Linked DNA regions of Homo sapiens. The protein of the gene in region 2 purifies or fractionates together with the protein of the main gene of each other region. This does not show direct contact. Each region holds a gene or a part of one and is shown on either strand. Other genes may lie near its edges. The genes, in order: ASPM, TUBGCP5 and MZT2A.

Region 1 (3,649 bases), on a different chromosome or scaffold from region 2:
CAACATAGCGTTAAGAGGGAAAGAAGACAGCTAAGAGATTATGGTATCAAGAAACCAAGGGTTGAGAGAAGAAACAAAGTGTGCTTAAATCCCAAATGCTACAGAGAAGTTGATATATATATATATATAAAACATACATATTTACATATATATGTAAGTATTTAGTAATGTATACTATATCCCAGTGGCTCCCAAACTTCGCTGCTCATTAGAGTCACCTGGGAGCTTTGAAACAAATCCCACGCTTGTGTTGCTTCCCATACCAATTAGAATATCTAAAGGTAGGAGTATGTTTTAAAATTCCAGGTGACTCCAATATGCAGTAAAGTTTTAGACCACTGGCATAGGCTAAAAATTATATGTGTAAAATACAATTTTATTATGTAATTATGTAAGAGAAAAAAATTTTTATAAGATTGTTATTTTGGCTATTTAATCATTTTAAGTGAATAAAACCATAACTAATACATCCAATGAACACCTTTCAATTGTGAACTTCTCAGTAGTGTTAGGAATTTGATACCATAATCTCTTACCTTTCTTCTTTCCCTCTTAACACCTTGGTTTCTTGATACCATTAATCTCTTACCTTTCTTCTTTCCCTCTTAACACCTTGTTGGCTTCTCTTGTCAATGTCTGTGAATTTTGATGTTCTTCAGGGCTCAAGTCCCAGGCCCTCTTTGTTCACTCATTTTATGTATTGTTCCTTGGTGATCTCATTATTCCCAGAACTTTAATTATTAGCATATGCCCATAATGTACAAATCAAATTCTAATACTCACACTACTCTCCTGAACTCCAGACAAACATAGTCAACTGCCTTACTAGATATTTCAAGGGGGTTACCTGCTAGGTACTTCAGATCTTATATACTCCAAACTGAATTCATCATCAATCTCAAAACCTGCTCTTCCCTCTTTATTCCCTATGTCAGGGTGTGAGGGAGTAACTCTGCTGAGTTACTTAAGCCATCAACATGGCTTGCCTCCTTGTTCATGCTCTATATAATGCCAACTTACAATCCCATTGTCACAAACCTACACTGAACTATAACTCTTTCTCACCTGGCTTACTGCCTATTTTCATTTGGTCTACCTGATTCTAGTCTTGCTCCTTTTCCAGTCCATCTTCCACATTCCTGCCAGAGTAATTTTTTTTTTTTTTTTAATAAAAATGACTGTGGTCTTCTCCTGCTTAAACTCCTCTAGAATTTGTTTTGTCTGGAGCATAAAGACTAAATTTTTTCTGTCTTAAAAATCTATCCACAATCTTACTCCCTCTATTGCCAACCTGGTCCCATATCACTTTTTATTGTTTCTAGTTTTTTGATTTTTCCACGTTATCTCTTGCAATTGGAATATTCTTCTATACCTTTTACTGGGCTATTTCTAATTCATACTTCAGTGTAACATTTCAACTTAAATGTTACTCACTCTGGGAAGTCTCTGACCATGGAGACTAGCTTGATTTCCCATTCTGTGTTTCCTGAAACATACACTTCTCATGTTGTATTATAATTATACTTCCTTGTTCAATTAAGTTCCTTGAGGACAGCAACTAAGTATATCTTACTCATTGTCTATTTATAACACCCACTACAGCATTTGGCACATTTCTAGCACTTGACATTTCTTGAATTAAAACATTATTTCTAAATTTAACAGTAATCCAGTAAGATATGAACATATCACATCTGGGTTAAAGCCTGGGTTATTGCAGGTAAAAAGAAATAGCTGAAGTACTTAGATTCAGTTCCTGGATCTGCCTCTCTCTATGCAACATTGGCCAAATTACTTAAACTTTATCACTTCCTTCATATTTTAAAAGAGATAATACTGTACATTCCTCACACATTTGGCAAATAGACAAAACAAAATAATACAAAATTGATTTGGAAGCCAAAGTACTAAACACTCAGAATAAAGTATGTCTACTAGCCTAAGCAGCAAACAGCTCTGGTTAATAGATTATTAGAGGAACAAAGTTACTCTATTTTGCCTATATTATGCCAAATAATACTTTATCTTAGCTTATATTTTCCACTTAAAGAAATAACTTTGCCAAATACAGGACTCCTATTTTCTCAAAATTCTTCTAAGAGTGCTACAATTAACCCATACTGAAATGCACCACACATAGGGTGACCATGGCCAGAACAATCCCCGTTCTGTGCTGTCTTGGCTGACTTACTAGTGCCCTTTCCCTCTTTCAAAAATGTTCCACTTTGGAAGATAAATGGTCACCTCAACTAAGTACTATTCTTTATGACCTGCTTAAGCTCATTTTATACATTCTAACAAATATTGGTCAAAAGAAAGACTCACAGTTTTATATTTAAATTAAATATAGAAATACCTGAATTTTTATGGTGCTATTTTTAATTTCCTGAAACTTCCGTTTCTGTATAAATCCTTTACTTCTAGCTTGAATAATGATAACACTGCTTCTGATCTGTAAATAGACTTGTCTTTGATGTTTTGCAGACAGAAATGCTCTGTAGTGATTTTGTAAAACCACTGCTGCTTTTCTATATAGTAAAAACTGTTTTCTGGTTTGCCACGTCCTAAAATAATGCTGTAAAGTGATAGCAGCTCTTTTCTGCTGAACAAATCTTCTCCGATACACAGCCATCTGAAGGAAGAACTGAATCCGTAGGGCAGCACATTTCTGTGTTTCCAGTTTTCTTGTGACCATTCTACAAAAAGCTTTTTGAATTGTTACTGCAGCCCTACTTTGAGAATGATACTCTGCTTCCTGTGAACAAGCAAGGCCAGAAGCTTTATACCACTCTTGAATCATAACACCTTCACTTTGAACAGCTTCATACTGAGTTTTACTTCTGTAACAGCAGAGTGCAGATTGGTTAACAATGGCTGCCATCTTTTCCTCTGATACATTTTTCAATTTTTGTCTAACTTTCATGCCTCTAAAAGCAGCCTGAATAGTTCGTACAGATTTCTGAACTGCTAAAAAGTTTTTTCTTTCTGTTTTTACTCTAACATACAACCTATAATAATTCTGTATAACCACAATTGCAGTTTTCTTTGTTTCATAATCAACTTTGGCCCTGTGCATTCGATAGAATGACTGAATTAGTGTGGCAGCCCGGTGCATATTTTGAATATCCTTTCGTACTTTAAAGCCTCTGTAATAAGACTGTATACAAATAACTGCTTGGGTACGCACTGCAGTTAGTTTTCTGTATCTTCTTTGAATAGAAACTACTGTTGCTCTAAGGTGGAGATAATGCTTCCTTATTTTAAAGGCTTTACAATGCTTCTGAATAATAATGGCAGCCTGGTGCTGTTCCTGAATCTGTTTTTTTATGTTCATGTCCTGAAAACCTGCCTGAACACAAGTCTCTTTCTTAAGTTCATTGTGTTGAAATACTTTCTGTTTCTTTTTATTTGCTCTATATTTTTCTTGTATGATTTTTGTAGCCCACTGAAGCTTTTGGTAGAAACAATACTGCCTATACATTCTGTAGGTGCTTTGTATTACGATAGAAGCTTTGTGTTTTTCCCTTAAAAGTTGTCTTGCTTTCATTCCTTTATATGCAGCCTGAATAACCACAGCAGAATGCCATTGTCTGATATAATTTTCTCTTTGTAATTTTGCAGCTCTATATGTTCGATAATGTTGCTGAAT
Region 2 (3,649 bases):
TGCTTTGAACAGGGGTGGGTGTGGTATATTCATGTATAGTTTATCACATGTCTAGCTCCACATAGCCACTTCCATGTTCAGATCACAGCTGTGCCATCGCCTCCCAGGAGCTTGCTTGTGCAGCCCTTTGTAGGCACAGCCTCCCTCACCCCTCTCTGTAACATTAGCCCATTGGGAGGTGTTTTGTTTTACCTAGTGTAATTTTAATTTGCGTTCTTTTATTATAAGTAAGGTCAAGTGACTTTCTGTATGTTTTAGAATCACTCATCATTCCTTTTTTATGAACTGTCAGTTCCTTTATACATTATTTTTCTGCTGAGTTGTCTTTTTCTCTGTGACTTGCAGGAGTTCTTCCTTAGGGAAATTAGGTCCTTGTGGTATGAGATTAAAATCCACCGTCCTCCATTTTGCCCTGCCTGTCCATAAGCCTGATGATTTGCCAGCATTTATGTCACATTTTAGATGCATGTATTTTTCCTTGCTGTTGAGTTTGATTTATTGATATTTGCAGATACTACAATAACTCTTGCAATAGTGGTGGACAAGTTGGCACCTCGATTGTCTCAGCTCAAGGTTCTGCACAAAGTGTTTAGTACTGGAGTAGCAGAAGTTCCACCTGATACTCGAAATGTCGTCCGGGCCTCTCACCTGCTTAACACCCTGTACAAGGCCATTCTTGAATATGACAATGTTGGAGAAGCCTCTGAGCAAACCGTAAGTGAGACTTCTGCCTAAAGTGTGTGACTCCATGCTGCACAGCAGAGGAGTGATAGACAGCTGATGGTAGTTCTTTGTTGATACTTGAATGATGACTCGTCAGACAGTTCAGAGTTTTTAAATTAACTTCCAAATTTAAGGCTGTAGGAAACTGGCTTTTCAGCTCTAATTGCCAAGATCCTCAGAAGGATGAGGCAAGGACAAGGCAAGCTGTGAGAAGTACCTACCTGATGTGTATAGATATTTACAATAACGCTTTCTTACATAAACACTAACATGTAACTAACATGACATGAGATAGCTGAAGTAGACACATCCACAGAAACAAAGTGGAATGCTGGTTACCAAGGGCTGGGGAATGGGGAGCTGTTGTTTAATGGGTACAGAGTTTCAGTTTTATAACATGAAAAAGTTCTGGAGATTTGTCACAACGATATGAATGTACTTAAAACCTCTGAACTTAAAAATGCTGAGGGTCAGGCACAGTGGCTCGTGCCTGTAATCCCAACACTTTGGGAGGCCGAGGCAGGAGGATTGATTGAGCCCAGGAGTTTGAGACTTGCCTGGGCAACATAGTAAGACTCTGTCTTTAAAAAATTAGTTAAATTAAAATTTTTTAAAATATACAGTTAAGATAAATTTTATGTTATATATTTTATATTGTATTTTAAAAAATACAAATCTAGGCCATGCATAGTGGCTCACGCCTGTAGTCCCAGCTACATATGAGTCTGAGGTGAGAGGATCACTTGAGCCCAGGAATTTGAGACCAGCCCGGGCAACATACTGAGACCCTGTCTCTACAAAAAATTTTTAAAGTAGCCAGGTGTGCTGACACCAGGAATTCGAGACCAGCCTGGCCAACATGGTGAAACCCCGTCTCTACTAAAAATACAAACATTAGCCTAGTGTGGTGGCGAACACCTGTCATCCCAGCTACTCAGGAGGCTGAGGCAGGAGAATTGCTTGAACCCGGGAGGATGCAGTGAGCCGAGATCGCACCACTACACTCCAGCCTGGGCAACAGAGCAAGACTCTGTCTCAAAAAAGGTAGCCAGCTCTGGAGGCACATGCCTATGGTCCCAGGTACTCGAGAGGCTAAGGCAGGAAGATGGCTTGAGTGTGGAAGGTCAAGGCTGCAGTGAGCCATGTTTGTGCCACTGCACTCCAGCTTGGGTAACAGAGCAAGACCCTGTCTCAAACAATATATAGATTTAAAAATAAAAATCTAACTAGAGGCTGTAATTTAGAATGCTACAGTCTTAGTTGGGTATGTACATTAGGTGTATTTTCTAGTTTGTTGGTATAACTTTTTTTCACACCAATTTAATACCATATTTCTTTTTTTCTTTTTTTTTTTTTTTTTTTTTTGAGACGTAGTCTTGCTCTGTTGCCAGGCTGGAGTGCAGTCGCACGATCTTGGCTCACTGCAACCTCCACCTCCCAGGTTCAAGTGATTCTTCTGCCTCAGCCCCCTGAGTAGCTGGGACTACAGGCGCACATCACCATGCCCGGCTAATTTTTTGGGGTTTTTTTTTGTTTTTTGTTTGAGATGGAGTCTCGCCCTGTCGCCCAGGCTGGAGTGCAGTGTCATGATCTTGGCTCACTGCAACCTCTGCCTCCTGGGTTCAAACTATTCTCCTGCCTTAGCCTCCTGAGTACCTGGGATTACAGGCGCCCACCACCATGCCCATCTAATTTTTGTATTTTTAATAGAGATGGGGTTTCACCATGTTGGCCAGGCTGGTCTCGAGCTCCTGACCTCCTGATCCGCCTACCTCGGCCTTCCAAAGTGCTGGGATTACAGGCATGAGCCACCACACCCAGCTGTATTTTTTTTTAATAGAGATGGGGTTTCACCATATTGGCCAGGCTGGTCTCAAACTCCTGCCCTTGTGATCTGCCCACCTCAGCCTCCCAAAGTGCTGGGGTTACAGGCGTGAGCCACCATGCCCAGCCAATTTCCTCATCCTTAATGGATGCTTTGCTAGTAATAGGATTTAGATAGGGAAACCTTGTTCGCTTGCCTGGGCTATCTCAGGATACACCTGCTGCCTCTGTGTCACTTTCACTCTCAAGTTTCCCAGTCTGGACTACAAACAATATGATCATCCCATATTTAGGTGAGTTTTTCTTTTTTCTTTTTTTTTTCTTTTTGTTTTGAGACAGTGTCACTCTGTTGCCAGGCTGGAGTGTAGTGGCACGATCTTGGCTCATTGCAGCCTCCACCTGCCAGATTCAAGCAATTCTCCTCCCTCAGCCTCCCAAGTAGCCAGGACTACAGGCGCGTGTCACCATGCCCAGCTAATTTTTGTATTTTTAGTAGAGAGGGGGTTTCACCATGTTGGCCAGGATGGTCTCGATTTCTTACCTCAGGTGATCCGCCCACCTCGGTCTCCCAAAGTGCTGGGATCACAGGCGTGAGCCACCACGCCCGGCATTTAGGTGAGTTTTTCATAAGGATTTTATAGTGTATGTTTTTGGATTTTTAATTTCTTTGTGCCCCAAAAAACATAGAAATCCGATCACTTTTTTAAAGGCATTTCAGAAATGTTTAAACCTCCTTTTATCCTAGTGACCAGGGAACCCTGAGAGCTGACCGTGCACACTCTCTGCCTCAGGTCTCCCTCCTTTTCTCTCTCTGGGTGGAAACGGTGCGGCCTTACCTGCAGACGGTGGACGAGTGGATCGTGCACGGGCACCTGTGGGATGGCGCCAGGGAGTTCATCATCCAGAGGTGAGCTGCAGCAGAGCACAAGGTCACTGGGGGCTGGCATCACCAGTTTCCTCCCCATGAAAATCAAATGCTTTCGTTAGTTTCAGACAGTACTGAGAAAGCACAGTTCACATCACAGAACTTGTCGTCATCATAGGCAAGTTCTATCTCATTTTTACGGAAGGCATCAGTAATACCAGCTGATTAGAAATATCT
Region 3 (3,749 bases), on a different chromosome or scaffold from region 2:
GAGATGATGAAGGGGAGAGCATCTCTGCTCAGTAAAAGCTTTCATGGGCAGCGACTGAAAGAATGAGGCCCAGAGGAATTTCTAGGAACTTTCCAAGAGAGGAAATTCAAACCCGAGAACTCCCAAGAGGTGTCTCCCACACCCCTGTTCTCTGACCCTGCCATGGCCACCCTCCCCCGTCACAGGTCTCTGCGTGCCATGCACCTAGAGTCCACTTCGTCGCGACTCTCCAACACCTATTTTCTCCAGGAGCTGCTTCGGACCCGTTTGTTTTTTTTGTTTCGTTTTGTTTTGTTTTTCTGACAGCGACAGCCCTTGGGCAACGCTAATCATTCCAAGCAAATTCTGTCATGCCAAGACCTCCCTTAACAGCACGCGCCCACTTGTTTCCAACTCTCCTGCGAATTGGGCTTCGGGAGCCTCCGAAACCAAGGCTCGGAGATGTGGAGCGCACAGGGGAAGGGTCGAGCTGGGACCCACACCCGGCTCTTCCTCCCACACCGCCTGTTGAGCCCAAGGCTCAATTTCAACACAAAGCTCTCCTTCCCTCAATTCCTTCAACGACGGGTAACCTTCAACGAACACCTACCGGACCAGAACAGAGTGTACGAGCGGCGCGGGAAGGTGGCACAAAGGCATGGCCCAGAGGAGTGGCAGGAAGACTCAGCCGGGGCCCTCCACTCCCCAGCCTGCCCGGCCTGGGCAGAGCCGCCGGGCCGCCCGAGTCCTGGGGCTCGCGGAGGAACGGAGATGGCCTCCGCAGGGGCTCGCGGAAGCCCCCAGGGCGTCGGACCGTCTCACGCGCGCGTCCCGCGCCACTCACCTGTGGGACCCATAGCGTCGCCCGCTTCAGAGGTGGAAGCCGCCATTCCGCCACCGCGCCAAAACGTCGTCATCAAGCTGCGCGCAGAGCCACGCCCCGCGGCCGGGCGGGAAAAGCGCTTCTACCTCTTTGGGCCGTTACCTCAAAAGGTACGTGCGCAAAGCGAAGAAGGCCGGCCGGCCGGCCAGGGAGGGGAAATGGCGAGGCAGGAGTGCGGGGGGAGGGAGTGGTCCTTAGCTGAATGCGCCTGCGTTGTGGCGGCCTCTGGCGCCCCAAGGTAGGGCTCACGCACTTTCTCCCTAGCAAGGAATGCGCGTGCGCGTAAGCAGGGTTGTTGATTAGTGCCCCCCACCCCCCCCGAAGAGCGACCCCTAGTGGTGCACCGGTGCGGACCAGAAAATTGCACGCTTTCTTGAAACAGGTATTGACTGAGCGCCCAATGTATGCCTGGCACTGGGCTGGGTGCTGCCACCTAAGCGAGCACGACCAATGCAAGTCTATCAGGGACGCCCTGACCGCCAAGCAGCTGGCCCCTGCAGTCCGCCATGCCACTCCCGACGCCTAGCGCGCCGCTCAGCACACCGTGAGCGCCCACTAACTGTTGGGCTCCAATGACGCCGAGGAGGCGGCCCCGTCCCCGCGCTCCCGCCGCTCCCGCCAGGGCAGCCCGGGAGGCCAGACGCTGGCGCTGCAGGGAGAGGGCGGTGGGCGCATCCGCTAGGGGGCGCGGCGGGGCGGGGCGCACCTTTCGGCGGGCCTCGCGGATGGCGGCGCAGGGCGTAGGGCCTGGGCCGGGGTCGGCGGCGCCCCCGGGGCTGGAGGCGGCCCGGCAGAAGCTGGCGCTGCGGCGCAAGAAGGTGCTGAGCACCGAGGAGATGGAGCTGTACGAGCTGGCTCAGGCGGCGGGCGGCGGTATCGACCCCGACGTGTTCAAGTGAGCGGGGCGGGTGGGGGCCGCATGCTCGCCAGACACCCCCGACCTCTGCTCTCCGGGTACGCCCGGCCCGCTGGTCGGGAGGAGCCCCCGCTGCCCCCGCCCCCGTCCTTGTCCGGTCTTCAGGGAGGTGGCCGCGCCGGGCGGAGAGGGCTCACCGGCCCCGCGTCTGTCCCCGCCAGGATCCTGGTGGACCTGCTGAAGCTGAACGTGGCCCCCCTCGCCGTCTTCCAGATGCTCAAGTCCATGTGTGCCGGGCAGAGGCTAGCGAGCGAGCCCCAGGACCCTGCGGCCGTGTCTCTGCCCACGTCGAGCGTGCCCGAGACCCGAGGTCAGAGCTGGGCCCGCTGTCCCTGCCCCAGTGGCGGGGGTGGCGGGCGGGGAGGGGGCAGGCGCGGCACAGCGGCGGCGTGGCCCTGAGTGGCCAGGCCTGTCTGTCGGTCGGTCTAGGCCCAGCACCTGCAGGGCCCATCCGTGGGCTCTGCTCCTGGGCTTCGCTGCCAGCCTTAGGAGGCACGTCCAGGTCAGGTGGACGCAGAGTGCGTGCCCCAGGGTGGTCCAGGCTGGGTAGGGCTCCTCCGCTTAGCTCCTCCCCACCTCTTCACTCAGGCCTTCATCCTACAAAGTCGGGAATCAAGACGGTTTGGGGCTGGGCGCCGTGGCTCACGCCTATAATCTTTGGGACCCCACGGCGGGAGGATCCTTTGAGGCCATGAGTTTGAGACCAGTCTGGGTGACAGGGTGAGATCCTGTCTCTAAATGTTTTTCAAAAGACAGTCTCGATCTCTGTCCTGTGGTATACAGCATCCAGGGAAGTGCCCAGGGAGCAGGGCAGGCAGACGTCTTCCTGCCTTTACCCCACCTGGGCCCAGTTCCTGCCTCTGATGATTGCAGGAAGAGAGTTAGACGCGGAACTCCCAGGGTGCAGAGGCCTGCGGGGTCTGAAGGGCCTCCTCCCTCTCCAGTGTGGTGACTGGGCTGAGGAGATGCTGGGACTGAGAGTGTCATGGTGGAGCCTCCGTCCCTGCTCATCCTCTCCGCATGTTGCTTCTGCTCCCGATGGCTCTCTCTGAAATGCAGCACAACCTCCCAGGCCAATGGAAGGAGGCCCAGAGCTGGCTCCCTGCCTGGAAGCAGGAGGAGACCCTCACAGGCATCATGAGAAGGCGTGGAAAGCAGGCTGCCTTCATGGGGGAAGTGCCAGGGCCTGGGCACCCACGCCCGCTGACCCAAGAGGGCCCGGGCACCTGCGTGCTGGCCTCTTCACTGACCCTCGCTCTGTCTGCTCTCTTTGTGTCTCTCTCTGACCTCCAGAGGCCTCCTTTCTCTCTGCCAGGAACAGTAGCCCCCCTGCAAGGCCCTCGTTTTCCTCCAGCCCGCAGCCTGCGGCCTCTCTGGTTATGCTCCACAGCCCAGCTGCCACACACTCACCTCTCTCTCCAGGCCCCCCGGGTTCCCTCCGCCTCTCTTGCTGCCTGTTCTCTCCTTTTGCAGGTTGCGTTTATTGGCTTATCTCTGGGGGTTGGTGCTCTTCCTTGTTTTCATGGAAACTGCATGGCCCCAAGAGGCCCAAGCAGCTTTGAGCTGCAAGGGCAGGATCATGCAGGCCACCGCTGCCCTGCCGCTTAGCCACAGGGCACTATTTCTGACTCGGTTTATTAGAGACATGGTGTGGCAGTCTCTAGACCCCACAGTCGGGCTGGCATCCGGGGACAGGACCAACATCCCCACACCCCAGAGGCGAACTAGTGGTGAGTGTAAAGAGCCCCTCTCCAGGGGAAGACAGCCAGCCGGGTGCAGTGTGCTCTGCTGGAGAGCACAGCCCCAGGCGTGACAAACGCCTCGGCCTCTTAGAAGTTGTCCCCTACCTGGACAGGAAGTCTGGAGGCTGAAACAGAGACTCCCACCTTCCCAGAGTCTGCCAGGCAGTGCCACACAGATGCCATGTGCTGGTCCCATGGCCACACTCCAGCACTCAGCCCCCTTGCCCGC

Evidence for each region.
Region 1: the proteins of TUBGCP5 (region 2) and ASPM purify together in Homo sapiens (affinity purification with mass spectrometry; 3 studies listed by BioGRID and IntAct, with this or other methods). This does not show direct contact.
Region 3: the proteins of TUBGCP5 (region 2) and MZT2A purify together in Homo sapiens (affinity purification with mass spectrometry; 3 studies listed by BioGRID and IntAct, with this or other methods). This does not show direct contact.

What each region holds. Positions count from the first base shown.
Region 1 is NC_000001.11:197,098,075-197,101,723, forward strand, and holds part of ASPM (abnormal spindle-like microcephaly-associated protein), read right to left. Parts: coding exon 2,357-3,649; intron 1-2,356. UniProt on the Homo sapiens protein: Involved in mitotic spindle regulation and coordination of mitotic processes.
Region 2 is NC_000015.10:23,019,024-23,022,672, reverse strand, and holds part of TUBGCP5 (gamma-tubulin complex component 5), read left to right. Parts: intron 1-511; coding exon 512-714; intron 715-3,292; coding exon of another isoform or gene 3,293-3,338; coding exon 3,339-3,454; intron 3,455-3,649. UniProt on the Homo sapiens protein: Component of the gamma-tubulin ring complex (gTuRC) which mediates microtubule nucleation.
Region 3 is NC_000002.12:131,490,215-131,493,963, reverse strand, and holds the start of MZT2A (mitotic-spindle organizing protein 2A), read left to right. Parts: upstream 1-1,566; 5' UTR 1,567-1,587; coding exon 1,588-1,757; intron 1,758-1,939; coding exon 1,940-2,088; intron 2,089-2,727; exon of another isoform or gene 2,728-2,804; intron 2,805-3,071; coding exon of another isoform or gene 3,072-3,251; intron 3,252-3,749. UniProt on the Homo sapiens protein: Required for the recruitment and the assembly of the gamma-tubulin ring complex (gTuRC) at the centrosome.